2 linked regions of the Homo sapiens genome follow. The protein of the gene in region 1 interacts with the protein of each later gene in a biochemical or structural test. Each region holds a gene or a part of one and is shown on either strand. Other genes may lie near its edges. The genes, in order: STX3 and TBC1D30.

Region 1 (16,168 bases):
GGTATATTTGACTAAGGAGAGTGTTATGGACTGAATGTTTGTGTCCCCTCAAAATTCATATGCTGGAGTCTAATCGCCAATGTGATGGTATTTGGAGGTAGGGCTTTTGGGAGGTAATTAGGTCATGAGGGCGAATTAGTACCCTTATAAAAAGAGACGTGAGAAAGATGATCTCTCTCTCAGCCATGTGAAGATACTGGAAGAAGGCAGCTGTCTACAAGCCAGGAAGAGGGTCCTCCTCAGACATCAGATTTGCCAGTGGACTTCCTAGCCTCCAGTACTGTGAGAAATATATCCTGTGTTTAAGCCACCTAGGCTATGGTATTTTTCTTACAGGAACCTGAACAGATTAAGACAGTGAGGTACTAGCAGAAGACTCAAGGAGGAGGGAAGAGACCATAGTTTTCCTCCTTTCTCTCTCTACCTCAGACATGCCTTCTTCATGGCCTCAGCTCTTTCTCAATAGACCCCGCCTCCATGGTCCCAGTTCTGCTGGTCAACTCCACCATGGTCTGGTCCCCATCAGACAGCTCTGGCTTTAGGCTCTGGTGACCCTGCCTTCCTTCTCTTTCGCTCTGACCTGCTGTTGCTAATTTTCAGAGTGCCCCAGCAAACTTCTGTTTGGCTTCTTGACGCTTCCATCCCTGCATAAACAATCCCTTTATTATATTACTTTGATTAAAATAACTAGATAGGTTTTCACTTTCCTGACTAAGTTTTGAGTGATGCAAAGCCCCAACACACTTAATTTACTTGAGATTATTGTCTCAGAATACTTGTTTTCATTGGTCAGTATAATTCTGAGATCATTCTTTTCTTTTCATTCATAAAAGGAGAATTGAAACATTAGTCCTGGTCTTGATAAAATGCTTTTGGGACTTGACTTCCATTGCTTGGTTGACTGAGGTGGCCTTTTCCCTCCCTTTTCATCAACATTTGTTTTCTTTTTTTTTTTTTTTTATATTAGCACAAACACATTTATTTATTAACCAAAGGGATGATCCTAATTAATCCAACACACTTTGAAATAGCTGCATGTAAAATGTTTATGATAAAGATAATTGAACACAGTAATGAAAAAAAAAAGAAAGAAACAGTATGGAGATTTGCTCATTGAACTGAGCTTGGTCATTCTCTTAATTAACTCCTGTCCAAAGTGATGATGGAATTTTTATTCTACTTTTTCATAGATCCGAGTACAGGTGACATTGTTCATGACACACTCCACCACTAATTTCCCATCTTTCAATTTTCTTGTTATTGTGCTTTCCTTCCCATCCCACTCCTGATGCTGAACCAATGCACCATCTGTAAAGTTGCAGACAGTCTGAGTTTTTCTGCCATCAGCTGTGGTTTCTTCAAACTTCTCTCCCAGGGTACAAGAAAACTGTGTTGTTTTCAAAGTGCTCTCAGTTTTTATGGTGAGGTTTTTACCATCACAAGTGATGATACAATCTGGCTTGGCCATTGCGCCCATTTTTCGCAAAGCTATTCCCACTCCTAGCTCCTTCATGTATTCATCAAAGCCTTTGCTGTCCACCAGGCGCCATCTTCCTTCCAGCTGCTGAACTGTGGCCATGGTGGGTGCGGGCGGGCTGGCGTGCAGAGAGCAACATTTGTTTTCTAAAGCAAAGAAGCAAACAAATTAAAGAGGACTTGACTGAGCAGCTCTAATATGAAGACTGCTTGGGATTCTGTCATTTTTTGGGGAAAGTGAAGGTGTATAAATTGTGAAAAGGAGGGATCATTTGACAGTTAAAATCACATTGCTCTTGTCACCTCGCAATAAGTTTTCAATACGTAAATATGCAGCAATTAATGCTCAACTAGAGGTACAAGGTACCTGGGAGTTTAGGAGAGGCCGAGACTAATTCTTAGGGAGAATAAACAGAGCTTTTTTGCTTAGCCTTCCATCTTACCCCATGCAACCTGCCAGTTCCACAAACTAGTACTTTCTCTGCTTTTCCTTGTTTAATTAGATTCCACTGGCTAATTAGGTCCAGAAGGAAGAGGCCATCCAGATCTCGAAAATAACTCCTTCCTTTTAGTTATAGTTATTAGTATAATATAGTAATTATATTTGGCCACGCCCAACATGTAGAGTGATTGACTTGGGTGTTGACCTTAGATTTCCTTGGGTGGCTACTGATGAGGTCAGACTGTTTTATTAAGACTTTTTTACAGGATTGCTATGAGGATTAAATGAGACATGCCTGTAAATGCACTGCATAGTACCTGGCATATGACAAATGTGCAGTAATTGCTGGCATTTTTGTATTTATCATTGTCATCACCTAACATTTATTGAACATGTACTTTATGTTAAACATTTGGCATGTATTGTCTAATTTAATCTTCACAAAAACTCTAAAGTGGGAGTTGTGATAATTCTCATTTCACAGATGAGAGAACTGGTGCTTAGGGACACTTACAGGGTGCGTTCAAGGTCATAAAACTGCTAAGAGAGATGGAGCAGAAACTGGAACCTGGTCTGTTTGATCTTAATTCCTTAAATCCTATATTATCTGGATTCCCGTATTACTAACAAAGCATTGAAAAGTACATTTTAGGCTGGGCCTGGTGGCTCATACCTGTAATCCTAGCACTTTGGGAGGCCGAGGTGGGCGGATCACTTGAGCTCAGGAGTTAGAGACCAGCCTGGCCAACATGGTGAAACCTTGTCTCTACTAAAAATACAAAAAAAAAAAAAAGGTTGGTGTGGTGGCGGGTGCCTGTAATCCCAGCTACTTGGGAGGCTGAGGCAGGAGAATCACTTGAACCCGGGAGGTGGAGGTTGCAGTGAGCCAAGATCATGCCACTGCACTCTAGCCTGGGCAACAGAGCAAGGCTTTGTCTCAAAAAAAAAAAATTAATAAACAATGTGCAATGAGAAGGCACTGGGAATATATTAGCTGTAAATTTTACATGGTGATTTAAAAAAAAACACTTTTAGATGTCAACACTTGGTCAGCAATACTTCTTGAGGGCTCATTTTGTAAAAAGCTTTCTATAGGGAGCGGTGGTGAGAAGACAGAGAAATAAGGATGATCTCTGTGAAAGGCAACTGATCCATTCTCCCAAAACAGTGGATTGAACATGCACATTAACCTGATGTGAGCTGAATATGCATGAACTTGGGAGAGAAGATATAGGAGCCTTCCTTAGGCGTTTACCTGGTTCAGGAGACAGGATTTAGTATTCCTGAGTTCAAACCTCAGTTTTGCCTCTTTCTGCAGTATAACCTGGAGTAAATTTCTCTACTTCTTTGAGACTCGATATTCTCATATGTATAAAAAGGAGATGATGATGGTAGCCTCATAGAAGTATTGTGAAGTGCATAGCATCATTTCTGATACAAGAATATGTTTAGTCAATTTTAGTTCTTAAATATATGAATATGCAGAGTAATTTTAGATGTCAGTATACTTAACCCCAGACAAACACATGCAATAGCCCTTAAACTTTTAGATTGGGCACTTGTCAGTTTCCTATACCCCTTCCCTGCAATTGCCTCATGATTTTTTGATTATGTGGCAAATGCACAAAAGGAAACCACATGTAGCTGCCATTTCACACCATTAAATACTCAGAAAGTCACCTTTGAGGAAAACCAGTACTTCTAAGAAAAAGCAAAGCCACGAAGTTCAAAAAAAGAAAGCTCTATGGTTGGCCACTTGCCCATCCTGAGGTCCCAAAAAGGTCCTGTGATTATTTGGTGAACTGACTAAATTGCTGTGAAATCAGATTCCCTGAAATGCCTCCAAATAGAAAGGTTGATGCGGTCAGAGGAAAGAGACCAGCTACAGTGGGTGGAGGATGGGTGGGGTGGAATGGAGTGCTCCCTGGGCCTGGGAAGTCCCGTAGGCAGGTTGCGGATAGAGCACCCAGGACCAGTTCTCCTGTGCATAGGGCAGGGTGAGTATCAGCCATCCAGTCTCCAAATGCCTGTAGTGACACTGAGCCTGAGGCCTGCCAGTCTCATCCTAGAAACTTCCTATCTCTTCCTGTGCTTCTACCATTGACTGAACTTTGGGTCAGAATACTCTTCAGTTTATAAAATAATTTTCCAGATGAGAGAATTTCTGTGACAACCAATCTGTTGAACATGCAAAATCTAAGTCCTTCATGACTTGTTAAAATTTAAAATTTGATAAACTCATTTAAAAATGTTTAGTGTGTTTTCTTCTAGAAAGCCTTTTTCCCTCCCTCAATCCTGTAAAACAGTGTAATTGCTTTGGCAAGACAGTTATGTGGTGGAACTGGAAACCATGGTGTGATGCAATGACATGAGTTCTAAGAGGGGCCAGTAGATTCTGAGGTGGTCACACCCCTAGAGTCTGTGAGTGTATTAGTTTGTTTTCATGGTGCTGATAAACACATACCTGAGACTGGGCAATTTACAAAAGAAAGAGGTTTAATGGACTTTCAGTTCCACGTGGCTGGGAAAGCCTCACGGTCATGGCAGAGGTCAAGGAGGAGCAAGTCACGTCTTACATGGATGGCAGCAGGCAAAAAGAGAGCTTGTGCAGGGAAACTCCTGTTTTTAAAACCATCAGATCTTGTGAGACTTACTATCATGAGAACAGCACAGGAAAGACCCACTCCCATGATTCGATTGTCTCCCACTGGGTCCCTCCCACAACACATGGGGATTATGGGAGCTACAAGATGAGATTTGGGTCGGGACACAGAGCCAAACTGTATCAGTGAGTATCATAGGTTGTAACAGAGGCCTTTTTTATAGCTGGGTAGGGCTGGAATGCTGCTAAACAGTACAGATAATTAAAAAAATTAACTCTTCAATCTAATGGAAAAAAGCTTCCCAGTTGGAGTGTGGAGGGCACTATTTGCATGCTGTCCCTACCACTAGCTATGTGACCTATAATTTCTTTAAACTTGTTTCCTCATTTGAATAATGGTACTGGTCCAGTCTTATAGGTTGCTTTGTAAACTCTTAAAATGCTTCACAAATATTTGGGTAGTTACCTGTATGTATGTTTACACTCCCATGATATTATTACATTGTAATTTTATTCTACATCTTTCAGCAAGCAGCTCTACTCTTAAACTCTGGCACATCTAAGCCAATATATTTATAGAGGGGAAAATCCTGTGCTCCAGTGGCAAAAGTACTGATTTGAGGGCTAGAGAGCTCAAGTATTGTTTCTCCTATTTTCTTTCTTTTCCCTTTTTTTTTGTTTGTTTTTGAGACAGAGTCTCACTCCGTTGCTCAGGCGGGAAATGCAGTGGCATGATCATGGCTCACTGTGGCTTCAACCTCCCAGGCTCAAGGGATCCTCCGTTTTAGCCCCCTGAGTAGCTGGGACTACAGGGGCATGCCACGATGCCTGGCTGATTTTTGTATTTTTTGTAGCGACGGGGTTTTGCCATGTTACCCAGGCTGATCTTGAACTCCTGGGCTCAAGTAATCTGCCTGCCTCGGCCTCTCAAAGTGCTGGGATTACAGGTGTGAGCCATTGTGCCTGGCCTCTCCTATTTTCTATTGAATATGAAGAGCTATAATCAGGTTTTGAAAAAGGTGAAGTGTCCACAGGAAAAGAGGGATGCTGGAAGCTGCATATGCATTGAGTTTTATTTTTGTTGCATCTCAGATGTTAGGATCCTACTGTATGACATTTTACAAGATTTCTGTTTGTCAATTGTTGCAATGTTGATGTGCCCTTCACTTTGAGAGTGAAGCAGATAGACCCTACAGGTGCTGAGGTCTCTCCTTCCTGCCCTGCTCCCTGTACATAGGCTTCCACTGCAGCAGGGCTGTGGTACCAGTGGCATGGGCACCTATGAAGCGGGGAGCTGAGGCTGCAGTCAAAGCTCACACAGGAATGTCTGACAGTGGCGTTCTACCTGGGAATGAAGTGCTGCTGGAAATATTTTATGATACTCACAGCCTTGTACAATCAGGAGCCTTAGAAATATGCAGAAATGGGCTGTGGCTCGAGCTACTGGGTCCTGATCGTCTGAGGAAATCAGTTAGTACAAGAACATATGTGTCCTAGAGAAGCTTGGGCTGTCTCCTGAGACCTTCATTGCCTAGTATCTCTCTTTTTCTCTCCTTGTTTTCTTTATCTGTTTCTTTCTTTCTTTTTTTTTTTTTTTTGAGGCAGTCTCGCTGTGTCGTCCAGGCTGGAGTGCAGTGGTGCGAACTCGGCTCACTGCAAGCTCCACCTCCCGGGTTCACGCCATTCTCCTGCCTCAGCCTCCCGAGTAGCTGGTACTACAGGCGCCCACCATCACACCAGGCTAATTTTTTTTTTTTTTTTGCATTTTTTAGTAGAGACGGGGTTTCACTGTGTTAGCCAGGATGGTCTTGATCTCCTGACCTCATGATCCATCTGCCTCGGCCTCCCAAAGTGCTGGGATTACAGGCATGAACCACCGCGCCTGGCCTATCTGTTTCTGTCTTTCTCTTCCTCTCATTCTGTGTTTTTCACTCTCTAGGTTTGTTCTTTTCCTTTCACTTCTTTCTTTCCTTCCTTCCTTTTTCCCCTCTCCTTCATCCTCACTCTTTTCTGTTCTCACTTTTTGGGCTTTAAGGCTCTGCCTGCTAAGGTCTGCTGATTCTCCCCCTCTGATCATTCTTCATGGTTTTTCTTAGCTCTTCTTGACTTTGGCCTGAATCCTTTCATCCAAAGTGGGTGAATGTATTACTCTTAGGGAGCAACAAGTATGGATTTTTAACAACTGTTCTGTTGAGATTACTTTATCTGACCATGGAAAGGGTACTCACTGGGCAGCTGAGGACTTTAAGTCATTATCTTCTTCCACAAACCCAGAAGATGGGCAGCTTTCACCAGCAGCTCTGCCAAACGTTTATCTCAGCCATGGACCTGTACTTCCTCTTTGATGATGAAGGTTATTGTCTTTCTGATTATAGATTGAGGAAACTCGGCTTAACATTGACAAGATCTCAGAACATGTAGAGGAGGCTAAGAAACTCTACAGTATCATTCTCTCTGCACCGATTCCAGAGCCAAGTGAGTGTTTACTTAGAACTGAGTCATCCAACAATCACCCTTTCCTTGGAGCTGAGCCAGCCTTGTTTTCTTGCCCTTCGTGAGCAGTAGGGAAGTGTACAAGTTACAGGGCACTAGTGTACATATTATCTCATTTCCCTCCCCTTTACCTTACCTGAGCTCCTACTGCCTGGCCACAGTCAAGGTTTTGTCTTCATGGTCCCACTCCAACCATTTAGCTAGACTTTCCTGTTTCCCAGCTAGTCCCTCTTCCTGACTGGCGACGATTCCCACTGCTGCTTACATACCCTGTGCCCTGTCCCTCCTCTGAGCCTCTGCGTGTACTATTTCCCCAGCCTGAACTGCTTTTCCTAGCCCTCTTTCTGAATCCTACCAGATCAAGTCCATTTTTTCTTTCCATGAGGTGTTCCAAAATGGTTCGAGTTCACAGAAATTCCTTCTATCCCTAAACTCCTGTTTGTTACCACCACCTAGGCAAACGTTTTTTCTCCCCTAATTGTTTGCATGGGTGTCCAACCTTTTGGCTTCCCTGGGCCACATTGGAAGAAGAATTGTCTTGGGCCATACATAAAATACACTAACACTAACGATAGCTGAAGCGCTGAAAGAAAGGTTTGTGCATAATTTTCCTGATATCTGCCACTACAGATAAGCAAAAAAATCCGTGCGTTCCACGGTTTGGACACGGGTGGTTTAGGGCTATATTTTTGGTTCCTTAAGAACAGGGAACAAGCCTGACACTGTCATTCCACTCTTTCATTTTTCCCATGGGCCCTCTTACCTAAAGACTGAAGTGGGAACACTTTAGCAGAGCATATGGGCATTGTCTTGATCACATTCCTGCCTTCCCAGCCAGCCTGTCTCCTGCCATCCTCCTCCTGCTTCCCACGCTTCAGCCAGAGCAACTCTGTCTGGTTCCCCAGGCATTTCCTGTTCACTCATACCCTTTACTTACTGTTTCTTCTCGTGGAATTCCTGCTTTTAGTCTCTTTCTCTACCTGGCCAACTCACAGTCCTTGAGACTCAGTCCTGCTCATCTCCATCTTTAGAGGCTTTTCCAGATCCCTCCAGGCTGTGCACACCTTGACCAGAACTCATACCTTACTCCACGCTGCATATTAGAGCTGCTGATTTATTTCTCCTTTGTCTCCCACTAGACTCTAACACCTTGCAGGAAAAATCTAGATCTTCTTTCTGATTCCATAGTTTCTAGCTCTGTTCCAAAGTTGTAGTAGGGGCTGAAGGATGGCTTTTGAATGAATGGTTATAGCTAACACTTAGTTTGCTCCATACAACCTAGGATGTGTGTAGTAGGTATGTCATAAATATTTGCCTCATTTTAAGTTGATTAGCCTTGGTTGAAATCTATTTTCCCCATAAGCTCCCTAGAACCTTCTCAACCGAAGCTCCCGTGGTAGGCTCTTTCCTCTAAAAGCAGAGTTTCCACAATTTTATGTGCTGCAGGATTACTCAGGAGGGTTGAAAGAGCTGATTTTGTGGTTCCAACCCTGGGTATTTTTATTCTGTAGACTGAGATGGGGTGCCTGGAAAATGCCTTTAAAAAAATAAGCACTCTGTGATTCTAATGACAGATGCTGGGGAGTGCGTAGGGATAAATACCATTCTGGGCAGTGGATGCCCGATAAAGCTCCCCTCCTCTGATGATGATTGCTGTAGTTCACAAAGGAATCAGTCCTCTCCTTTCTAACGGATTCTGCCTGCCTTTATTTACCCAGAAACCAAGGATGACCTAGAGCAGCTCACGACTGAGATTAAGAAAAGGGCCAACAACGTCCGGAACAAACTGAAGAGTAAGAAGGGAACAAAGAAAACAAGGCCGTCCCCACCACCATCTATCTCAGCTCCCCTAGGGTCCAGCTTTCCGAACTGAAACTCCTCTTGATGGAAGTGACACCACTTGGTCCATCTTTGCTTGTGGTTTGGGCTCTGTCCCCGCAATGATCCATTGTAGCCCCAGAAATTTACCTTTTCTTAAATCCTGACTGTACTGGAAAGAGTCCAGAATTGAAGCTAGGAGATGAGAATTAAAATGTGCTTTCAGCTGCTGAGTAGTTTTGTGACTTGGTCCTTTAACTTAGTCTTTCAACTTGTCTCTCTTTTTTTTTTTTTGAGACGGAGTCTCACTCTGTCCCCCAGGCTGGAGTGCAGTGGTGTGATCTCGGCTTATTGCAACCTCTACCTCCTGGGTTCAGGTGATTCTCCTGCCTCAGCCTCCTGAGTAACTGGGACGCACCTGGCCCATCAACTTTTCTCTTATTGGTCTTATTTCCCTGGCAACTACATACTTTTTTTTTTTTTTTTAAGACAGAATCTTGCTCTGTTGCCCAGGCCAGAAGGCAGTGGCTCAATTTTGGCTCACTGCAATCTCTGCTTCTTGGGTTCAAGTGATTCTCATCCCTCAGCCTCCCAAGTTGTTGGGATTACAGGCATGCACCACCACGCTCAGTCAATTTTTGTATTTTTAGTAGAGACGAGGTTTCGCCATGTTGGCCAGGCTGGTCTCGAACTTTTCTGGCCTCAAGTGATCCACCTGCCTGGGCCTCCCAAATCGCTGGGATTCCAAGTTTGAGCCACAATGCCCGGCCACCTACATACATTTGAATAGTCATTTTAGAGATATATAAATGCAAGAGATATCATTCAGTCTACAGATATTTCTTGGTGGGCTAGGCATACCACCTTCCCATACCCTCACTCCCCCCATTTGGGAGAGTATAGTTCAATGAAGCTACTGTCATAGATTCAGTTCTTCCAGAGCCTAGAAGGTTTACTTAGTTCTGTTGCTAGAGCCTGCATTCTTGCCCAGTGTATTTGGTGCATGCATGCTATTGATCAGAAGAGAAAGCATTATTGCTCAGCTCAATTTACCATTTCTTCCCCCCAAGTATATTGCAATAACTATTTTAACTGGAGGAGTCATTAGTAGCAGATTCCAGTAATAACAGTGATAGTGCACCTGCCATTGTGCTAGGCACTTTATGTGTCTTCTCATTTAATCTTCACATTAGTATTGTGAGGGAGGGACTGTTATTCTGTTTTACAGATGAGAGAACAGGTACATTAAGAGGGGTTAAGTGGCTTTTTCAAAGTCACACCCAGTAAGTGCCAGGGCAAGGATTCAAGCCTAAGTCTCATGGTGACCAGAACCCATGCTGTTAACTGTTATGCCAAAACCTGGTCATCGTAAAGGCTGTGGAATGCACGTCCTGTGGCTCATCTGGGAGCTGACCTTTTGAGGTGACACCTACCTGTTACATCTCCGTGGGCTGGATGTGTGGGAATGAGTGAGGAAGTTTCACTGAATAGCATGTTTCTTGGAGGCGGAGATAGGTTGCAAGTATAACCTTCCTCTCCTCTTTAGGCATGGAGAAGCATATTGAAGAAGATGAGGTCAGGTCATCGGCAGACCTTCGGATTCGGAAATCCCAGGTAAGACTTTTCCTGGTCTCATGATTAGCTAGTCCAATCTCTTATTGTTTTCCCTTAACTGTGGAGGGATTTTTTTTTTTTAATACAATCCTTATTTTGAAACTCAATTTGAAGACCTGGTAAAGGAGAACTCTCCAGGTTGAAATAGGGGTCAGGGCCAGAGTCCAGCCCTTTTGGCTCCTCTCCTGTACTCTCCTTCTCTAAGGAGGCCCCTGAAGAGCTTTTCAGGCTTCCTAGAGCACAGCTTAGGATTTAGCGTGCCTTCTTGTTTTACAGGAGAGGAAATTAATGTCTTCTAACAATTGTTAGTCATTGGTTGTCCAGTTTGGAGCTAGGCACTTTAGGGGTCATCAAAGATAGGATCCTTGTCCTTAAAGAACTGGCATGCCATTGAAGCGGCATGGAAAGCTATTACCTAAGACCCAGCAGGAGGATGCGACCCAGCAGGAGGATGCGATAAGAAGACACATGCATGGTGCTCTCAGCATCAAAAGATCTCAGGAAGAATGGGGGGTAGCCAGAGGAGGCTGGGCCAGAGTGCCAACATGAGCAGCCTCAGGAAGTAGTTTCCCCTCTCTGAGAGGCACAGGGGCAGGAGTGAGGCACGCACATATGTGTGTGTTGGCAGCAGTGGTTGGTAGTGGTGGTGGGTAGACGTAAGGGGCAGACGTGAAGACAATAGGCTTTCTGTAGAAAAAAGTTTGCTGTGGGATAGTGGACACATAATTTTTAGTAGATAATGTAGTGCCACATTCTAGAGGTCTTTGAGGACCAGTCTGGGGAATTTGGATCTGATGTTATAACTTACAGGCATTTGCTTCAGGCGGCAGTATATTAGGAGGATTATTATGGTAGCCATTTGAAAGCCGTTTACAAGTGGGAAAGAAGCAGGAAACTGGAAGGTCCCTAGTTAGGTTTTTGCAAGGGTTTTGGTCTAAATTTGTATGGTGGTAGTGGGTTTGGAAAAAGTATATATATTGGCGATTTTCCAAAGGAGAAACCAGTAAGTAGGGCTTGATGCTGAGAGGTGAGCAAGGAATAAAAATTATTAGGAAGGTTTTAGCTTAGGCATGCAGGGCTGTTGAGATAATGCATCTACTTATAAGCAAGAAGAGTTGGGGAGATGAGTTTAGCGTAAGAACTCAAGGATCTTTGGTAAGTATGACATGTGGGAAGGGAATCTGACAGTTTTAGAATGCAAGCCAAGTGTTGTGCCAGAAAAATGCTACTAGTCCATGTGGATGTAGGGCTCAGAGATTTAGAGATGACCTCTGGCCTCGCAATTACCACGTGAGGTCAGCAGTAAACCGGTTTCAGTAAACTGGTGCTGAAACCATGCTCTGGAAAGGGCAGTGGACTCTCCCAGTGGCACAAAGCTAGGAAACAAAAAACTTGGTTTGACACCTGGTTTTTTGATTCCAAGTCCAGTGCTATTGTAGATGGCTATGTGGGGGTGGGGAGGGGTTCTATAACAGTTACAGAACCACTGGGGCCTGACTGCATTTTACATCATCCCACAGCACTCTGTCCTTTCTCGGAAGTTTGTGGAGGTGATGACCAAATACAATGAAGCTCAAGTGGACTTCCGAGAACGCAGCAAAGGGCGAATCCAGCGGCAGCTCGAAATTAGTATGTACTTGAGGTTTGGCGTGTGCCCTCCACCTTTCCTGCCACCTGGTTGTCCATCCCAAGTTTTGAGGCCCTGGTGGAGCAAGCAGGAAGCACATTTTGTGCCTAAGTCTAGGGCAGCTCCTGCACCACTGGCACATCCCGAATGCTGTGCTGTAGGCTGAAAGGTGACACCGTGTTTATCAGGCCCAAGTAATTTTATTGTATGGGGTCCAGCATTGTCTCCTATATAGAGGGGAAATGCTTGCCAAACAGTTGCTCTCTTGTGGACTCATTGTATCATTTTGCTGTCTGTTTGACAGCAAAGCACATTTAAGAAATAAAAAGTGTGGTGTAAGTTGCTGGGAGGATAAAAGTATGGTGTAAGTTGCTGGGAGGATTAGAGAAATAAATAAAGCCATACCCTTTAGGAATGTAGTAATGTGGAAGGCAGGGCCCCGTGGAGTGGAAGGTGCTTTGGATGAGAGGAATGGTATGAACATAATCAAGAAAGAGCAAGTGTGTTTAGGAGTGGCAGGTTGTCTAGGGTCTGGAGAAAGGGTGTGTCTGGAGTAGCATAAGGTTAGGATGGATTGAGGGAGGGCTTGCCCATGAACTAGCATGTTATGAGGGCCTTGGACACCATAGTGTAGTGAATGGGGCAAGGAAATGTTCTGAGCTGGGAAGCAATGTAATGAGATAAGTGCTTTAGGAAGGTAACTGCTGATAGTGTTAAGGATGGCTTGGATTAGGGCAGAAATAAGATGAGTCAGGAGGCAATTGGGGGAGTGTTGTAAAGGCCACGGTCTTTATAGGGAAGTCACGTTCCTAATTTTCAGGGTCCTTATCAGATGGTGTTTCACCGTGATCTTATATTTGACGCTCTACTTCTTTTGTTACAAAGCTGGCAAAAAGACAACCGATGAGGAGCTGGAGGAGATGTTGGAGAGTGGCAACCCGGCCATCTTCACTTCTGGGGTGAGTGCCCTGTGTGCTCGGATAGCACATCCCTCTCGTGAGCAGGGAGGCCACTGCGGAGCTCATGCAGTCCAGCAGGTGGAGGGGGAGCTGCAGGTGCAGGGAGTTCAGGGAGGCAAGGAGCTCCCCAGGAGCGTGCATGAGGGCTGTGGCAGGGGCAGCCTTTCTTGCAGGGGTAGCTAACAGTCTGTGTGTGGCCTGTTGTAGATCATTGACTCACAGATTTCCAAGCAAGCCCTCAGTGAGATTGAGGGACGACACAAGGACATTGTGAGGCTGGAGAGCAGCATCAAGGAGCTTCACGACATGTTTATGGACATCGCCATGCTGGTGGAGAATCAGGTAAGTGGCAGTGAGTCCCAGCGTGGGGAGGGAGGAGAGGAAAGCTCAGGGTCTACTGAGAACAGGGAGAAAGGGAATACTGGAAGCCAGTGAGGTAGGGTGGGAGAACCATTGGGAATTTGCATAAAGGAGAAACAGAATCCCATGGGAAAGTGTGCATTCAAATTGAATGTTGACACTTTGGGTGATCTTAACCTTGTCATTCTTGCCTGTCCCTTTGGCCTTGCAGTCGTTGCTAGTTGATACAGGGTTTGATGTGTTCTGTCAAGTACCCAGTTTTCCTGGATTTTTGATTTTTTTTTTTTTTTTAAGATGGAGTATTGCTCTGTTGCACAGGCTGGAGTGCAGTGGCGTGATCACAGCTCACTGCAGCTTGACCTCCCAGGATCAAGCAATCCTCCCAGGATTTGTCTTTTTTTCTTTCTTAAAAATCAGAGATCCGGGCTCCTAATGGTGACGTTTTAAAACAGCCTCCTGATATGGACTAGTTCACTGATGACATTGAAAATGTGATCTTTTCTCTAGTTCACAGGGAAGACTCAGGTTTAACATAAATTTTTATTTTTTTCCATTTTTTTTCTGTTTGTATTTTTTTTTAATTTTGGCACCTTTTGCTAAGGCACAGAGCAGACAACAACATGAATGAAGGAGTAGCAAAATAGCATTGACAGAAAGACTCGAAACACTCGTGGTGCTAGTTTGACAGCTTACTTTGTCCCAGGCATGCTTGCTCGGGATAGAATTCTGGATTGCCTGCATAGGGCGCTAGTTTCGCATAGTTAGATGGTTCCTAGTTCTTATGGGACAGTTAAGTGTGCCACAGGGTCATGGTGCTGTGCACTGTTGCCATGAACTTCCAGCTGCTCTGACACTTGGGATAGGAGAGAAAATTGCTTCCATAGTAGGCAGACTGCACAACCTAGTTGAAGCTCGAGCACAGCTTGACTAGTTTTTGACATTGGTTCCCTGCCGAGGGCCTGGATGCTTTCCCCCCATTCCCTACTGGCCTCTGAGACCATTTCTCAAGTCCCTCCATCCCACCTCTTCTTTTCCCCCACACTGCCTTGCCGAGGAACTGGCTTGAGATTCAAGTGGTGGTAAGTGCCTTGTTCTGTTTACAGACTGCCATAAAGTGATAGAGTTGGGTTGGGTAGTTGAGGAGAATTCCTAAAATGCCTAAGATTAATTGGAATGATCAAACTTCCCTGTCAGGAAGTGATTGCTAGGAAATGGTTGGGAAGCTTATCAAGAGACCACTGTCTGGAAGGGAAAATATAACCAAATAGCTTGGGTAAACCCAATGTCTGTCAGTTAAAGGGCCTGGAAATAACTTAGAGAAAGCAAATGTTCCCCACCTCAGATAGTTATTGAGCACCTACTGTGTGCCAGGCACTCTTCTGCAGTTAGTGAATATACTCAATTCAGGCTGAATGATGTTGATTCAGGTCTGAATGACCAGGAAGAGGCCAGCATCCTAGTGATGTCCTAATAACAATGAGATATCCTTATTTTGGTTCCTCTCCATGTGCTTAAGTGTAAAAAAAATAACAAAGGTTGTCTGGGGATATCTCAGAGTATATTTATAGGTAGTTACTAGGTATCTAGATAGTATGTTCTGGATGCCTGGTGGAGTGCTGGTCACAGAGAAGTAGTAAAATTCACTGAATGTTTCTTGAACAAGTGACTGCCACCCCACCACCAAGGACTGTGAATGGGTGTCCTATGGAAGGCCATGCATCAAGGTTTGTGGATGCTCTTCTTGCCACTGAAGATTGTAAGAAAGAGAATCCCTTCCCCGCATTGGCTAGGACTGACCTGAGACGTTTACTTGGTGTGATCAGAGTCTGTTCTTTGCAGGGTGAGATGTTAGATAACATAGAGTTGAATGTCATGCACACAGTGGACCACGTGGAGAAGGCACGAGATGAAACGAAAAAAGCTGTGAAATACCAGAGTCAGGCCCGGAAGGTGAGACTCTCCTGTGGCCTTCAGAGAAGAGAGTCCATTTTGTTTGCTGTGTCTCGCTCTTTCTCTTCCCTCTCCCTGTCTCTGTTTCTGCTGCCACCACCTCTTGCATCTGGGGAAAGGGATCCATGATTGACCGTATTGAGAACAACATGGACCAGTCAGTGGGCTTTGTGGAGCGGGCCGTGGCAGATACCAAAAAGGCTGTCAAGTATCAGAGTGAAGCCCGGAGGGTGAGCACCTTCATCTCAACTGTCCTTCGTCTCAGCTGTCTTACTAGTATCTCTTCTCCCTGGCCACCCCTACCTGTGTTCTTGAGCCCATGCCTCCCTCCCTGTCGTAGCCTCATCAACCCCTCCCTCAGCTTTTCCTAGAGACAAGCTGCCTGCCCTTCCTTCCCAGGTGTGCCTTGCATGGATCTGGCTCACAAGCTATCTCCCCAAAAACCCACACTTGAAAGGCAGTTCTGTAGGATGGATGCATGGCCCAGGTGGTGCTGCTAATCTTCTCCTGGACTTAGCTCATGAGGCTTTCAGATGTTACACTTGACTCCTCTGTTCAGAAACCTTCTCTTCATTGTCTTCCACTCCAGGCGCCCAAGCTCCGCCTCCCTTCTCTTTTTCTCTACCTTGTACCTAGCTCATGCTAACTGCTATCTATACATTATGTCATATCTGATGGAGCACCTGTTATTTCTACTTTATAAATGAGACAGTTGAGGGTCAGGGGCTCAGTAACTGGCTTCAGGCCACCTAGTAAGTAGAGGCACTGGGATTCAAGTTCAGATCCCAATCATTCTGTTTCTACCACACCACTGTATTTGCCCACCC
Region 2 (16,796 bases), on another chromosome or scaffold:
CCGGCATCCAGGCCCAGAATACTCTTTTTAAGTCAAGAGAGTGTAATACCTTGTAGAAATATTCTTAACGAGGACTGACACCAAAAGGATTTCTTTGTTTAAATTTCAGTTTATCTGAAAACACAGCAACTCAAACTGTATTGTCCAAGCATTGCTGTTGGCCAACATTTATATTGGATTGAGGAATTCTAATAGAGTAATAAGACTGTCTGAATATCAGTTAAATTGGTCTCAGAGAATTCTAGGGTTGGAAGCTGCTCTACTGGTATTGCTAGTCTGGCCTCACCTCATTTTAAATGTCCTTTCACAGCATCCCCGACTGCTGGGCTTGCAGCCTTTGCCTGAGAACTCCAAAGCAGAGGACATTTATGATCTCCTGAGGCTGGATGTTATATTATAGTCACAGCATTCTTTTGTTCCTTTCTTTTCTTTTCTCTTTCTTTCTCTTCTCTCTTTTCTTTCCCTCCCTCCCTCCCTTCCTCCCTCCCTTCCTGCCTTTCTTCTTTCTTGCTTTTCTTCCTTCTATCAGGGTGTTGCTCTGTCACCCAGGCTGGAGTACAGTAGTGTGATCAGGGCACAATGCAGCCTTGAAATCCTAGGCTCTCAAGTGATCCTCCTGCCTCAGTCCACCAAGTAGCTGGGACTACAGGTGTGAGCCACCATGCCCAACAGAGCATTCTGAAATTTTGCTGACATCTGCCTCACCACAGCTCCCACTTAGCAGTTCTAACTTAGTCCTTTGGAGCAAACACAAAACTAATTTCACAGTTTCTACCAAGTGAGTGAGGGCACTAGAGGAGTATGCGGCGAAGACCTCAGTGGGGTATCCTGGCCAGTCAGACTCACCCTGTGGGTCAGAGTCTGGGTCCTGTGCTGGATAGACCTCTGGGATGACTGCTCACAGCGCCATTTTAGCCTCTAGTGCAGCAACAACAAGCACTAATCAAAGGACAGTATTGAGCGCCTGCTTTATGCCATGACTTTCATTATGTCATTTAATTCTCACCGTAACTCAAATATCATTATTCTAAAGATGAGGAAACTGAAACCCAGACATTAAGTAACTTGCTCAAGGACATAGAGGAAGCAAGTACTGGCATCAGAATTCTAACCTTTGTCTGCTGCGTTGCCTCCTGGAGGGTCTCACCAGGGGTGATGACCTGACCTGTGTCTCTTCACACGTCTCCTCATTGGAGCACACGTTCTACATTGTTTCTTCTGAATGAACTCAACCTGGAGAGCGAAGGCTTCCAGACCTGCCAAACCAACATTATTGTTGATTCCAATCTCTCTCCTTTTCCGGTACTTCCCTCTTGTCATCACCAAAATCAAGCATATTACATTCGAACTCATCACCCTTCTCCTGTCTAGGGACACATTTCTAAGTTAAATCTACCTCAATAGATATGAGAAACCTCTCCTTTCATACCTCTCCTCAACAGGGTCAAAAGAATCTTTGGGCCTGGCACATGGCTCATGCCTGTAATCCCAGCACTTTGGGAGGCCAAGGCAGGCGCGTCATTTGAGGTCAAGAGTTCGAGACCAGCCTGGCTAACATGGTGAAACCCCATGTCTACTAAAAATACAAAAATTAGCCGGGCATGGTGGCATGCACCTGTAATCCCAGCTACTCAAGAGGGTGAGGCACAGAAATCACTTGAACCCAGGAAGTGGAGGTTGCAGTGAGCCGACATCCCTCCACTGTACTCCAGCCTGGGCAACAGAGTGAGACTCTACCAAAAAAAAAAAAAAAAAATCTTAGAATGGCTTGGTGTAAGGTTGGGGAATCTCAGCTAAATGGTTCATCATGACCAGGTTAAACAGTTATTTCATCTTCTGCAGTGATGAGTGTGAGTCTTCCAGTTCTATTCCTGATGTGGAACTAAAGAGCTGAATAGCACAACTGTAAGAAGAGCATACATGAGCTTTGTCCTTGGCCTGTTTTCAGGTGAAATTTAGTAGCTCAATGAAATGGAGCTCTGGGAAAACATTGCAACATATATAATACTTAAGATGTAGCAAGAATGGTATCTCTCCAATTATTCACATAGTATTTTAAAGGACCTTTCACACAATCCTTGTGTCCTTGTCACTACTCACTCAGTAAACTGTAAACTATTTTTTTTTTTTTAGACAGTCTCGTGCTGTTGCCAGGCTGGAATGCTGGAATGCAGTGGCGCAATCCTGGCTCACTCAACCTCTGCCTCCCTGGTTCAAGTGATTCTCCTGCCTCAGCCTCACAAGTAGCTGGGATTACACGCACGTGCCACCACGCCCAGCTAGTATTTGTGTTTTTAGTAGAGACGGGGTTTCACCATGTTGGCCAGGATGGTCTTGATCTCCTGACCTCGTGATCTGCCCGCCTCAGCCTCCCAAAGTGCTGGGATTACAGGCGTGAGCCACTGCACCTGGCCAACTGTAAACTCTTTGAGGGTAGCGTATGTACTGTGTTCATAATTTTCTCTCTCATAGTTCTTAGTACCGTGCCTTTCCCACAGCATCTGATTAATGATTTTTTTCATGAATAAGTGAATGAATAAAAGAAATATAAAGGTGTCTTTATATGGTCAATATCAATCTAGCTCAAGTAGTAGTGAGTCAGTTTCGGTCATTTTGAAGCAAGAAAATACTTAACAGGAAATACCACGACAAGAAGAATACGATGAGATCTAAAATCTTTGGTTAGTTATGCATCTAAGGTTACATGGATCTGGCAGCAGAGTTTTAAGTACATTTCTGTATGACATTCTGAGTGTGATTTGGTGTTGGAATTTTAAAGCCTCTCTGTTCCATGCTTGATAGAGTCCTTTCTCAAAAATTAACAAAATACAAAAGCTACACCTGATTGTCTTAAAGGATGCCTGTATTTAAATAGAGAAGTTATTTTTATGACTAAGAAAAGAAAATCATATAAATAGAAAATGTCCCATGTAGGTAATGTGATCTGTCAAATAATTGTAGTTTTTTTCTTCCCCCTCAATTTCCTCCTGCTGCCCTGCCCCTTCATCTCTGTCATGAGGGGGAAACTGTTACAATGCTCATAGTCTGTGGACTCTGTCTTGGATAATGAATTGAAGGAACTACTTTTTTTTTTTTTTTTTTTTTTTTTTTGAAATGGAGTCTCGCTCTGTCACCCAGGCTGCCAGTGCAGTGGCATGATCTCGGCTCACTGCAAGCTCCGCCTCCCAGGTTCAAGCGATTCTCCTGCCTCAGCCTCCCAAGTAGCTGGGATTACAGGTGTGCGCCACCACACCCAGCTAATTTTTGTATTTTTAGTAGAGATGGGGTTTCACCATGTTGGCCAGGCTGGTCAGTCTCCCGAAGTGCTGAGATTATAGGCATGAGCCACTGCACTCGGCCTTGAAGGAACTACTTGTTAAGTCCCTACTTTAGTAGGTCTGAGGAAAGTGTTAACTTCTTGTAGAAAAGGCCACAGATCTTGTCTGGTTAGCAGACGCCACTTCACTATTCAGGAGCTGTTTACACATGTTCAAAAATTGTGGGATGAGGAGAGAGGAGGAAGAGTGGCTTTTATGCCACCAGACCTCCATTCTTTTTATTATCACAGGTGCAAAATGTCCCCATCTCCTGCCGAATGGGAGACAGCACTAGATCTGGTGGTCTGATGAGATCTCTGATGCTCAGCTTGTGTGCATATCAGCACCTGCCAGGGAACTCCGCAGCTGTACAGATGAGTTCCAGGCCCACTTCCCCAGAGCAGGCTGGCTCCCTGTGGTCTCTCTCTCCTCATAGCAGGCTTCCAGGGCCTTTTCTCTTGGTAATTGTCAGTCCCTGAAGATAAGCACGTAGGCCCTTTTTATTTTAAGACTTTACTGTTAAACAAAAAAAATAGCAGCATTAGGAAATCACAGGTCTCAGACCCACTTCCCCTTCTGGAAGCCCCTTGGGACATAGTTTTTATTCCTTGTGTTGGGCTTTCTTTTCTTACTGACTTCTTCCCCCTTCTCCCATTAAAGGAAAAGTTCGCTCTCAAGGAAACCTCATTCCCAGCATGTAGGCCTGAAGATGCAGGGTATGCCGAATGGTCCATACTTTTTTTTGTTTCAGCCTGGGAGCTCACATCTGTGGGGGATGTCCTCAGGTTATTAGCTCTGTGACATTCGGGGCATTTCCTCAAAGCCTTCATTTTCTTTAGCAATCCAAATAACATTATCTCATCCAATGTGAAGTGTTCATTAAGCCTTCCTTCCCCTAAATTCAGCATAAGTCATAACCATTGTAGACTGTGGCAGTGTATAATTTGCCCAAATGTGAATTCACTATTATTTGATTGGTAAAGCTTGATTAGTAAAGAATAATGGTAAATTGGCCTGGCTCCTGAGATTCTCAGGCAAAGTCCATGCTGGCTTGAGTTCTCTGTAAGTTGACTTTAGATGACATCTTTCACGTTTGTAAAACAATATTCCAGACATGAAATAAAAAACTGTGAGTCACACAATCAACATAATACTAGGCTTGGGCCATCGCTGCTTTTAGAGTATTGTGTTTTAGTGCTCATGTAATTATCTGTTTGCTATAAAAGTTGGCAGTCCTGACTTTCCTCTCCAATGTAAACAAAATAATATTATCTAATTCCTTTGCTGTTTATTGCCATCATAGCAGAAACTCTTAAATTTTATTTTAAAAACAGAGTTAGATTTTCCTCGTAATAGATCTAAAAGAGGTGAAATTGAATGTTCCTTTTGCAAGCAAACAAGCTTCTGTCACTACTAGTAAAGAAAAGTATTACAAGTAAAGAAGAATCTAAAGAGAGGTCTTTTTATCAGTCATGACACATGGGTGAGTTGACAGCCTAGAGTCTAGATGTCAGCTTTGGCAGTCTGGAAATTTGGTGTCTTCAGGTTACTGACTGGTAAGTGAACTCAGGGGTATTGACTGCTATTAACTGGTCAGTATATTCTCTGTGCTGCAGCAGAGTCTATATGGGAAATCAAATGACAATCCAAAGTTTGCTTGGTGAGCATGACGTCAGAGCCAAAGGGAGTTGGATGGTCTGAGTGGCATATGTCACAGCCCCAGGGGCAGGACGTCCTCCTCTCCACTCCAGAGACAGTGTTGTAGAACAGAGCTGATTGCTTGTCCTCTTGGCTTGCCTAGTGATGGAAACCGAGCATGAATAGCCTCTCTTGTTAAAATAGAACACAAAACCCTCTAAGATTTGAGCATATGAGAGGTCTGGAAGACGAGACTGTGCATGCAGTTACCAACTTGTCCTGCTGGATTTTCCCTCTCCTGCCAGTTCCCTCTCTTTGACTTCGGGTGTTCATCACCATCTTCAGCCCCAGGGTATACTGTGCCCTCTAAAAAACTGGTCAAAGGGAAGCATCAGACCTCTTCCTATGGCTCTCAGTACAACTGAGATAGGCTGCAACAGCCAATGAGTGTCTTATTAAAATTAATACAAAGCTGAAGGATACAAACATGTACCAAAACTGTAAAAAGTTGATGGTTGATGGAGGATAAATTTCTGTACCGGAGCTCGCAGCAAAAGGTTGGGAAATTTAAGCCAAGCAATTAGTCATGACCAGCTTAAACAGTGACTTCATTTTCTAAAGTGATGCCTTTTCAAAGAGTACTGCCCTTTTGAAAGCATCTTTACCTCTGCCAGGCAGCTACAACTGAATAGCTTGCATGTCCTTTATTAGCCTGCTTTACTTTTGCAGATGGCTCATCTCATTTTTAATAGATTCTTTTACAGCTCATTCTTAGGGTTGCACCATTTCTGACATTGTCCTCAAATTCTGGGAAGCGTCATAGGAATGCCTTCTTTTTCTGGCTTGTTTAGGCTATCTTTATGAAGGCATTTAAAAATATTCAATATTTTTTCAATCAATAGCAGCCATTTTTTTTTCTTTTGATACAGGGTCTTGCTCTCTCACCCAGGCTGGAGTGCAGTGGCCAATCATAGCTCACTGTAACCTTGAATTCCTGGGTTCAAGTGATCCTCCTGCCTCAGCCTCTCAAGTAGCTAGGACTACAGGCATACACTACCACACCTGGCTAAGTTATTTTATTTTTGCAGAAACAGGGTCTTGCTATTTTGCCCAGACTAGTCTTGAACTACTGGCCTCAAGTGATTGTCCCACCTTGGCCTCCCAAAGCACTGGGATTACAGACCTGAGCCACAGCACCTGACCCAGCAATTAATTGCTTTTTGTTTTTGTTTTTACTTCTGAGGCAGGGTCTCACCATCACCCAGGCTGGAGTACAGTGGTGCGATAATGGCTCATTGCAGCCTTGACCTCCCTGGCCTCAGGTGATCCTCCCACCTCAGCCTCCTGAGTAGCTGGGCCTACAGGTGTGTGCCATCATGCCCAGCTAATTTTTGTAGCTTTTTTTTTTTTTTTGTAGAGATGGGGGTTTGCCATGTTGTCCAGGCTCAGCCATTGTTTTTCAAGTTCAAATTGTTTCATCTTTGGCCAATAGGAAGGAGCCTATTTATGTGACTCTTGTGTCTTTTTGACTTGACCCCATTAATTGTGAAACATTTCCTTTCTTTTTGAGCTCATCAAAATGTTTCAGGGTCATCTTGTACTTTTTCTGTCCCAAACCTGGAATCAGTCACTCCTCAAAGGAGCCTTAGTTCCTTTGAGTGGGGAATGGTTTTTAGAGACCATAACCTGGGTGCTGTGGGTGTTCATTGCTGCTGAGTTGTCCTTACTTCTAAACCTATTCAATGAATGTATGTATTTTTTTGAAAAGAAAAAAAAATGAGTTCATACTAGTGTTTCCCATATAAATATATAATTGTAATATTTTAAAGAAAACTTAATTACTTTGGTTATACACATATTTTCTATTACACTGAAAACATCTTGGCTCCATTTGATGTTAGCATACTTATTTATTTGCTTTATCCTGTAGTGGATATAAGAATTTAAGAAATATGAATATTATTAATAACAATAATACTACTGAATGAAATGTAAGGTTTCTTTGCAGTTTTATTTGCTCTGGGAATATGTACAACTGTTGATGTACAGTCATAATATTGTGTTCTATGTCAACTTAAGAGAGAATTATTTTTTTCTGTGTTCTTATGCTATAAGTGGGATAGTCCATTAGGTTGATTTGTTTCCATTAATTTTCAATTGTTAGGGTTTTCTTTTACAATTTAAAAATAATTTATTCATTTATAGTCAGGGACTAGGTCTGTTGCTCAGGCTAGAATGCAGGGGTGCAATCATAGCTCACTGCAGCTTTGAACTCCTAGTTTCAAGACATCCTCCTGCCTTGACTTCCCAAAGTGCTAGGAATACAGGTGTGAGCCACCGTGCCCAGACTATTTTATGTATTTTCAAATTTTATTTTTATTTTTATGTCTTTTTAAGAGATGGGGTCTCGCTATGTTGCCCAAGCTGGCCTCAAACTCTTGGGGCTAAGCAATTTTCCCACCTCAGCCTGCCAAGTAGCTGGGACTATAGGCATGCTGTTCCATCATCCTGGTTTTTTAAAAATTTAATTTGTTAATATTATTAATATAGTGTTATTCCAGAGCCAAAACTACAGGAGGCACATCAAGAGAGGACTCAGTTTTCCATTCTTGTCTCCTCCACGATGTTCCTTCTCCTATACAAGTTTTCTAATTTGTTTTTGGTTTATCCATTTAGTGTTTCTTTTTATAAATATTAGCAAACACAAGTATCTTTATATCCCCCCCCCACACCCTTTCTTTCATCCATTTTAATGGTAAATAGTCTATTGGTGAATATTGCCGTTTGAGAATGACTTTTTTTTTTTTAAACCATAATGATGGGCAATAGTTCAGAACTACTGAAGTCTGGCTGGAGAGATGAGGAACATTACTTTTTAATACTGCTTGAAAAGAGAACACTTTTTTTCTGGAAGCCCATTTTTCTAAAAGAAACAATAATTTTTTTTTCCTTCATTTTCTCCGCGCCTCTCTAATCTGCCAGGAAATAATTCAACGCAATTCGGGCTGAAGCGTGTGCCTCGCCGCCTGCGGTTGGGTCATGGCCCCTTCTGAGACTGCTCGGAAGTGGGAGAGGATGCTTGCCCTTACGGGTGTTCTGCCCCTGAGACTGGCGCCCCTTGGTGCTCCCTCTGTTCCCTCCCAGATCTTGGGAGAAGCACGGACATCTCTGTTTCTGCTTTTGGTCCCCGAACGCAGTTACGCGCCCACTGGCTCCCTGTCTCTGGCGCTTCTGGGCACGGGGGAGCTGGGGCGGCCCCGCCTGCGCACGGCGGTGCCGGGATTGGGGGCGGGCACGCCGCCTCCGTCTCCCACGCGCTCGCTCGCTCGCTCGCTCCCGCCCTCCCCGCCTCGAGCGATCTCCTGCCTCAGCCTTGCAGGCTCCGCACTGCAGATGCCTGCTGGCTTCCCTGCGCTCGGCGGCTCCCGCGGTGCCCCGTAAGTCCCCGTGACCCTCCAGCACCAGCCGGCTGTGCGCTCCCTGCTCCCACGGGCCGGTCAGCCGCAGACACTCACCCAGCTCCGCGAGCTCAGCCGCTCAGCGAGTGGGGTAGCGGGGACCGAGACGGACGGTAGCCGTGCCAGAGCCCGGGGCGCTCTCGGATGCGGCAGGACAAGCTGACCGGGTCTCTGAGGCGCGGGGGGAGATGCCTGAAGCGGCAGGGCGGCGGCGTGGGCACCATCCTGAGCAATGTGCTCAAGAAGCGCAGCTGCATTTCCCGGACCGCGCCCCGGCTGCTGTGCACCCTGGAGCCGGGTGAGGACCCCAGGGCTGCAGATGGGGCGCTGTAAAGTAGCGCCGGGGCTGCCCGCGCTTCTGCCTTAGCCTGACTCCGTCTAGGCCGGGGAGCTCTGGGGAAAGTCCGCGTGCCACCTGGTGCGGGGCACCGCGTTGGCACCTGCAGGGAGCGATTGGTCTGGAAGGGTAGAGGGCAGACGGGGGCCTGGGTGGGGCAGCGGCCACCCCAGGCGCGGAGAACCCGCTGCTTCCACCCTCTCCCCGCGGACCCCCACCCTGCGGCCTGTGTGCTCGGCTTTCTCCGCGTGGCGGGGAAGTGCGGGTGGCTGCCCGGGCCCTCAGAGGCCGCACCACCTATTGTGTTCCAGGCTCGCAGGAAGCCAGACCTTGCGAGAGGTGTGTGGGGGCGGAGAGTGGCACAGGTTTGACACTGCAGGTCGGAGGAGGAAGACAGTGGCTGCAAAGGCAAAATCGGGTGTTATTTTCCCAAGAGTCCCTTCAGCGTGAGTGCCGGGGTCAGCTCGAACTGGAGCCTGTAATTTGTGAGTGCGAGTGGGGAGCAGCAGGAGATCCTTTTCATAGGTGAGGTCCAGGAACGAGCCTGGTCGTGCTAGGCAAGGCCCTTCCCACTGTCAGCCTGTGTTTACCCATCCCTGCTTCTCCAGACTGCATAACTCCGTGTCGGCTCCATCACCCGGCATCCCTCCCCGGGATTTTAAGAGCCTGGCCCTAGCGCGGGCTCCTGGGCACGGAGGTTTCTGGCAAGGAGTGGCTGCAGAGGGAGTTGGCTGTACTCTCACTGGTGCTTGGCGCTCACCTGTTCCCTGGAGTGGCACCGGCTGCGTTCCAGGCGGGTTCACGGTCCCCGGCCCCCGCCCCCCAGCGCCAGCGCCTTGGGGACCTGCTGTAGAGCCGCAGGAGAATCGAGCTGCAGAGTCCCAAAGGGTGGGATGCGGCACTGCCTTTCCCAACCTCGTGGTTTCTTTGTTGTTCTCCCCTAGGAAGTGTCTAGTTGCAGAGGCTGTAGTATTTATTCACCATCTTCCTTTACCTCTTTTTTTTTTCTTTTAAATCTCCTTCCCACGTTAAAAGTAAGTGTTTTGTATTTCTGAATCCGGAATAGCTGTGATTATCAGATGAAACATAAACCTTCTCTCTGCCCGTATTCTGTTAGAAGAAAAGAAAAGTGGGGTGAAAGTGACCTGGTTTAAGCTTTTGCATGCAGGCGGCGAATCAATTTCAGTTAAATCCTCTTGCTCATTTTTGATCATGAGAGGATAGTTGTGGTTTTGGCCAACTAACCCCTGCTGGGTTTCACTATGAGAAGGCAATCGGCATGATGCCCAGCAGGTGCCCCGGAAAAGTCAGAAGAGCATATTGGTCAGACATACAGGGAATCCTTGTAGTGTGGCAAGAATAAGTCAGCGCGGGACCGAATTTCCTGGTCTTTGTTATCAAGCAAACGTCATGATTATACGCTCCTCCATTCAGCACCTCGCGTCCGGACAGCAACCTCACTTGTTTTCAGCGTGCCTTAAAGCGTGCGCTGGGCTGGAAACACTCCCGTGGCCGTTGTTATCACCGTTCTATGTTTGGGCAGGACTTCGTTTAAACCACCTCAGAGAGAGGCGGATCCATGTGGTACTTAATATTCCTTCGGAGAAAAAAAAAACTTATCTATCCAGGCAGAGTATGGTTATGGCCCTGAAGCTTTAAAAAGAAATATCAAGGCATTGATTGGATGCCTGGGATTCTCTGCCACAGCTTACTTTGGAAACCTAGGACCCAACTCAGGAATTTACAGCGCTCTTCCAGGGTTCCAAGAACACCTGCATACTGATATGGGCTTGCAAAAATCAGATACATCTCTTTCCAGCTTCTTGACTCCGTGTATATATATATTTTTTAAAAGACCAGTCTACTTGATTACTTACTATTATTTCATAAATTCTGAAGATTGCTCCTATTCATACCAACCACTAAGAAGTGGAAGTTGTGGAGAAGTTTTTAGTACACCTAATCTACAATCAACAATCTTAGAAACAAAAATGCCATCATTTGACTTTTGAAATTTGTAAAACTTAATGTTATTGATAGTATTTGGCATTTCTTGGTCCTTGAACTTTTGGGCAATAATTCCTTTAAAAAATGGGGCCGGGTGCCGTGGCTCATGTCTGTAATCCTAGCACTTTAGGAGGCTGAGGCAGGTGGATCACTTCAGATCAGGAGTTTCAGATCAGCCTGACCAACATGACGAAACCCTGTTCTACAAAAAATACAAAAATTAGCTGTGCGTGGTAGCACGTGCCTATAATCCCAGCTATTTGGGAGGCTGAGGTGGGAGGATTGCTTAAGCCCAGGAATCCAAGGCTGCATTGTGCTATGATTGTGCCTGTGAATAGCCACTATACTTCAGCCTGGGTGATATATTGAGACTGTATCTCTTAAAAAGAAGAAAAGGAATTGAGACTGAGATAGGTTAGATAAATTGTTTCAGTCTAGGAACCAAGTCGAATGGAGGACTGTATGACTCCAAGCCTGTGGTGTCATTTTTTGTTTTTGTTTTTGCTTTTGTGGTACTCCAGGCATCTATGTAAACCACCGTCATATGTAGTAAGGCACTTTCTATTGCTGTAGGGTATTTTCCTATTTTAAGAATCAATATGCTTACCTTTTGGCAAAATTGACTAAAATTTAGTAAAGATACATACTTTAAAAAAAATTGTGATGATTCAGTAGAATCAAGCTTTTACTAGTATTTTTGATATAACTTGTTATAGTCTCCAAAAATAACATCTATTTATGTATTTTTCTTTCAGGAGTTGATACCAAGTTGAAATTCACTCTTGAGCCATCTTTAGGTCAAAATGGTTTTCAGCAGGTAACTTTGATTTTGAAAACACTCTTCTTTTGGGGTTACCAACAGGGCACATTGAGATATATTCTCAAAGTGGAAATAACGTATTCTTTGATATGAATGTGAAGATGAGTCACTTCAACAATATTTCAGTTAAAGTAGCTTTTGAGCTACAAGTGGCCTGGGTTTATATTTGCAGTGACAAATTTTGCACTTTCTATTAATGGTACATGTGTGAAAAATTTTAAAATGAATAAATTTCACACCTGTACCATAATGTCTTTTATTCTGAACCCCATAATATATATTTTGGCTTATTAACCAGAGCTTCCCAACCATTTTGTTTGTACTGCAAAGGGGTCACAGATGTGTTAAGGGTGCCCAAGGGGTGGGACGTGGCACAGTAATAGCCATGGACTGATCACTTCTGTCTGAAAGAAGCTTTGACTGTTTACCCCATTGTGCTGTGCAAATTTCAGCACATTCTATGAATGTCAAGATGGGAAAAAGATTGCAAAGTGCTTATCTAGGTCACTGTGATCACCTCCTGGGATTTCTTCTTTGTTCCTAGTGGTACGATGCTCTCAAGGCAGTTGCCAGGCTATCCACAGGAATACCAAAGGAATGGAGGAGAAAGGTAAGGAGGACTCATAGGGCTAGAATACAGAAGGATCATCACTGCCCTTCTTTAGAGCCTCTGGAATGTCAAAAAATATATTCTAGGTTTAGTTACTTGAAAACCTGTCTTGATTATTCATTCATGCAATAAATATTTATTGATTATTCTGTGCCAAGTAATGTTCTAGGTTCTAGGGATATAGCAATGGAAAAAAACAAAACAGACCAAAGTTTTTTGTCCTCATGGAGCTTACAATGAATAAAATATAAAGTATGTCAGATGGTAATAAGTGCCATGGATAAAAATAAAGTGTAGAGAGAAATAAAGAGCGTTTAGGAGAAAAGGGGTAAGGAGGTGGAATTTTAAATAGCAAGGTGACATTCGAGTAGGCCCCTGAAGGAGGTGAGAAGCCAGCCATGCAAGTACCTGGGAGGAGATACTCCAGGCAGAGGGAACAGCCAGCGCAAGCACCCTCAGCCCTCAGGCGGGAGCATCTTGCATCTGGGTTGTATTCAAGCAAAGATGGGGTGGGGCGGGGCTGGGGCACAGTGAACAAAGGGGGAAGCAATAGGTGAGGGGGTCATAGAGGTAATGTGGTGGGTTGAGGGGTGGCAGATCGTGGAGAACCTGGTGGGCTATCATAGGTCTTGGGCTTTTGCTCAGTGTGAGCTAGGAAGCACTGGGAAGTTTTGAGCAGGGGAGTGACATGATCTGACTTTTATTATGAACGGGCTACTCTGGGTACTGACTTGAGAATATGAGAGACAAGGGCTGAAGTAGGGAGACCAGTAGGAGACTTGCAGTAGCTCAGGCAACAGATGCATCAGGGTTGTGGTAGTGGAGATGGAAATCCTAGACGTATTTTGAAGGCTGAGCTTACATGAATTCCTCTTGGACTGAATATAAGGTATAAAAGGGATGTCAAAGATGACTTCAGGATTTTGGCCTGAGTGATTGGGAGGTAGAATTACTGTTTACTCAGATGGGAGGAGTAGGTGAGGTGTGTGTGTGTCTGTACGTGTAGGTAGGGTAGGTGGTGGAATAAGTGATTGGTTTTGGATCTGTTAAGGTTGACATGCCTATTAGATATCTAATTTGAAGGTATCAAGTGAGCATTTGGATATATGCTTCTGAGGTTAGGAGAGAAGTCTGGCTGGATATATAAATCAATGTTTATTTCTGCTAAATCATGTTTAAATACCAAAACTTGAAATACACACTTAGGATATTAATTTATAAGCCTAATCTTTATATTTCTAGAATTTGAAAATTGAGGGTTCCTCAAAATAGTCATGAAAATGACATTATGAAATATAACTTTCAGAAACAGATTTTCTGGATAAGATAATCAAAGGGTAAAAATATCCAGTGGCTCTTTTAAAAAACTTACTCATTATGGGAGCCCATCTGTCAGTTTTGTGTATGTGTGTGAGAGGGATGGTTTAAAGGCAGAGGCCACTCCATGGTGAAAAAAAGCCCCATTCACCATGAGTGACCAGATGGCTCTTGCCTAAGTATGGAGAGCAATACAGAGCCAAGTAAAACAAGCTTATGAGATTATACAGGTTATTCAATGAACAGAAATACAATTTGAAAATCTTCTTGGTTTGTCTTTCTAACAGTATCCCTAATGCCTGGATTGCTGCTTGACACATAGTGGGAACTCAACAAATATTTATTGAAAGAGTAAATGAAAGGCCCTAAATGGTGCAAATCAGTGCAACAAACATTTCAGTGAGACTCTTGTAGATTTCTACTTATGAGCGATAGATAGCTGGTCTAGGGACACTTCCCATTTTCTTGTCGAATGCAATAACTACTTTCTAATAAAGGTGAAGTTATATATTCTACTTTGGCATTCTCCTTTGTCTATGTAATATTTTAGGTTTGGTTGACCTTGGCAGATCATTATTTGCACAGTATAGCCATTGACTGGGACAAAACCATGCGCTTCACTTTCAATGAAAGGAGTAATCCTGATGATGACTCCATGGGAATTCAGATAGTCAAGGTAATGCCCCTGAACTTGGCCTGTCATCCTAATATAGAAGAAAGACTCTAAAAGCCAGTTGCTTTTTGGACAGAGGATCAAATGATCTCTACCTTCTGGTTTGAATGTCTGTATATTTTCTGCCTTCTCATTTCATTAGCTTTTTCATGGGGAACCTTGACAATGTGTTGTCTGCATAAATTTAAATGTTACCGGTAAGAAGAAAATATTTGCAAATGAGCTTTCATTCACATTCAACTTATTAATCTTCCTCACACTATAGGAAGGACGCTTTGTCATGGGTCAATGATGCCAACTGGATTTTTATATAAAAGTCACTGATTGAAAAAGTTAGTTAAGTATATTTCATATGAGAATGATTTGGTTCTTATTAGGGTCTTTGATAGTTTCTTAACTGCCAATTTCTAAAGACAGGTTCACAGGTGGGGCCTACTTCCAACCAAATACTTGTGGGTTCAAGCCAGCTGTGTAGGCAGTTGTGGCTCGCTTACCTGGATTATTACAGTTGAACAGAGCCTGGTGCTAAAAGCCAAGGATACTGATTCTGTTTGATCCCAGTATTATCCTCTTACATAAGGCTCTAGCACATGGTTTTTGATTTTATATGAGTACATTACAGTGTGATACTCAGCTGGGGTTTTAAAAGGAAAGTTGTTTCATCCAAATTTTGGCCACCTCAAGATGGCTAATGTTTTGGCATATTTGGAGGTTTTTTTTTAAGGAGGAAGTACTAACTAAAATGAGCTACTTTCTGTTCTAACTTGGTTTCAGACAAATGCTAAAAAAGTTATGCAATTTTACATTGTGTACTAAAAAGCCTTTGCATTATTCACATTTAAGCTATATATTTGGAATTTTAGAATATGTTTCGCAGAGATGAAGTATCTCATATTTGAAATATTTCCTTTTTGTCTAACTGGTGAATTAAGGCAATGCACCTTTTGTAACAATCATCTTTTAAGAGTATCTTTTGTTTTCTCATTGAAGTGAATGCTGTGTCAGTTAATGACTTCAGCTCTTGAAAATTGTAGTTCCTGCTTAGTAATTAAATTATAGATATTGCCTTCATTAAAGCATAGCAAATATTTCTGTCTTTCTTATATACATTCATAAAATAATTTGAATAGAATGATTTTTCTCTCTATAATCACATTTTTTGCTATTTTGATTTCACTCCTTTATGTTATTTAGAGTTTTGATAGCTAAATATTATACTTTATTTGTAGAAAGGAAGAATGTTAGCCTCAATCATACATGTATTGTGATGACTATTGTTTTACCTGAGAAATATTATTAAAACAATCAATTTACATGAAATTATACTGTAATTATTGTTAATTCTGAGCTACTTTTTGTGGTAATCCTGGAAACGTTTTAAGTTGAAAATTTGCCTGACTGAAATTCCCCTTGCAAATCTCTCTTAAACAGCATATTACAAAATATTATGAAAAAGAAAGCTAAAAATGCATTTTGGCTCATATGTATAAAAACATACACATTTTAAAAAAATTTTATGTCGATGATTTGACTCTGTTTATTGAGTCAAAAAAAAAAGGTATTGTTTTGGAAAGAATATTAGGAGTTATTTTTGAAAATATTGTTTCCCTTCCATTTAGGACCTTCACCGCACAGGCTGTAGTTCTTACTGTGGCCAGGAGGCTGAGCAGGACAGGGTTGTGTTGAAGCGGGTGCTGCTGGCCTATGCCCGATGGAACAAAACTGTTGGGTACTGCCAAGGCTTTAACATCCTGGCTGCACTAATTCTGGAAGTGATGGAAGGCAATGAAGGGGATGCCCTGAAAGTGAGTAGCAGGCTCTGACAAAGGCCATGGACATTCTTCTGAGAGTGAGAAATTGGAACCATAATTTCTCTTCCTTGATGTCTCATCCTTTTCCAAGGTGTTTGCCACACCTTTGTAATGACCTATGATAGCATTTCCTCCAGGTTAGAGCCATGTCAAGTGACAGATTCATGTAGCTGCCAACTATGAGGCAAATGATTATGTATTTAGTCTCATTTATAAGACATCATATTTTTAAAGCAAGTTAAATATTAATTGTATTAATTATTCATTGCTGTTCAACAAATTAGCTGCTTAAAACAGCAAATGTATTATCTTACAGTTTCTTTGCGTCAGAAATCTAGGCACAGCCTAACTGCCTCAAGGACACATCACTGTTGCTGTTGGTTGGTGTTGCGATCTCATCTGAAGGCTCAATTGGGGGTGGGCATTGGCTTTCGAGTTTGTTTATGTGGTTGTTAGCAAGATTTAATTCCTCACAGGCTGTTGGACTGAGGCCATGGTTCCTTGCTGGCTGTTGACTGGAGGCCTTTTATAGTTCCTTGCCATGTAGCCTCTCCATCTCTCAACCCAGTGGCTGGCACCCCCAAAGTGAACATGAGAGTAAAAGATAGTGAGCAAGGCAAAAGAGTTTAAGTTACAGATTTGTAGCCAAACATCAGAAGTGACATCCCACTATATTTCCATATTCTGTTCTTTAGAAGCCAGTCACCAGGTTCAGCTTATAGTCAAGGAGAAGGGCTCATACAAGGGTGTGACTCAGGGGTCATGTTAGAACTGCCTCCCACACTAGTTATGCTTAATTTTGATTGGA

What was found.
Region 2: the proteins of STX3 (region 1) and TBC1D30 form a complex in vitro, tested with the Homo sapiens proteins (one study listed by BioGRID).

What each region holds. Positions count from the first base shown.
Region 1 is NC_000011.10:59,780,142-59,796,309, forward strand, and holds part of STX3 (syntaxin-3), read left to right. Parts: intron 1-963; exon of another isoform or gene 964-1,610; intron 1,611-6,895; coding exon 6,896-6,995; intron 6,996-8,731; coding exon 8,732-8,806; intron 8,807-10,377; coding exon 10,378-10,445; intron 10,446-11,965; coding exon 11,966-12,074; intron 12,075-12,957; coding exon 12,958-13,031; intron 13,032-13,238; coding exon 13,239-13,373; intron 13,374-15,230; coding exon 15,231-15,341; intron 15,342-15,460; coding exon of another isoform or gene 15,461-15,571; intron 15,572-16,168. UniProt on the Homo sapiens protein: Potentially involved in docking of synaptic vesicles at presynaptic active zones. Apical receptor involved in membrane fusion of apical vesicles.
Region 2 is NC_000012.12:64,816,323-64,833,118, forward strand, and holds the start of TBC1D30 (TBC1 domain family member 30), read left to right. Parts: upstream 1-8,324; 5' UTR 8,325-8,557; coding exon 8,558-8,711; intron 8,712-11,512; coding exon 11,513-11,574; intron 11,575-12,121; coding exon 12,122-12,187; intron 12,188-14,054; coding exon 14,055-14,180; intron 14,181-15,796; coding exon 15,797-15,982; intron 15,983-16,796. UniProt on the Homo sapiens protein: May act as a GTPase-activating protein for Rab family protein(s).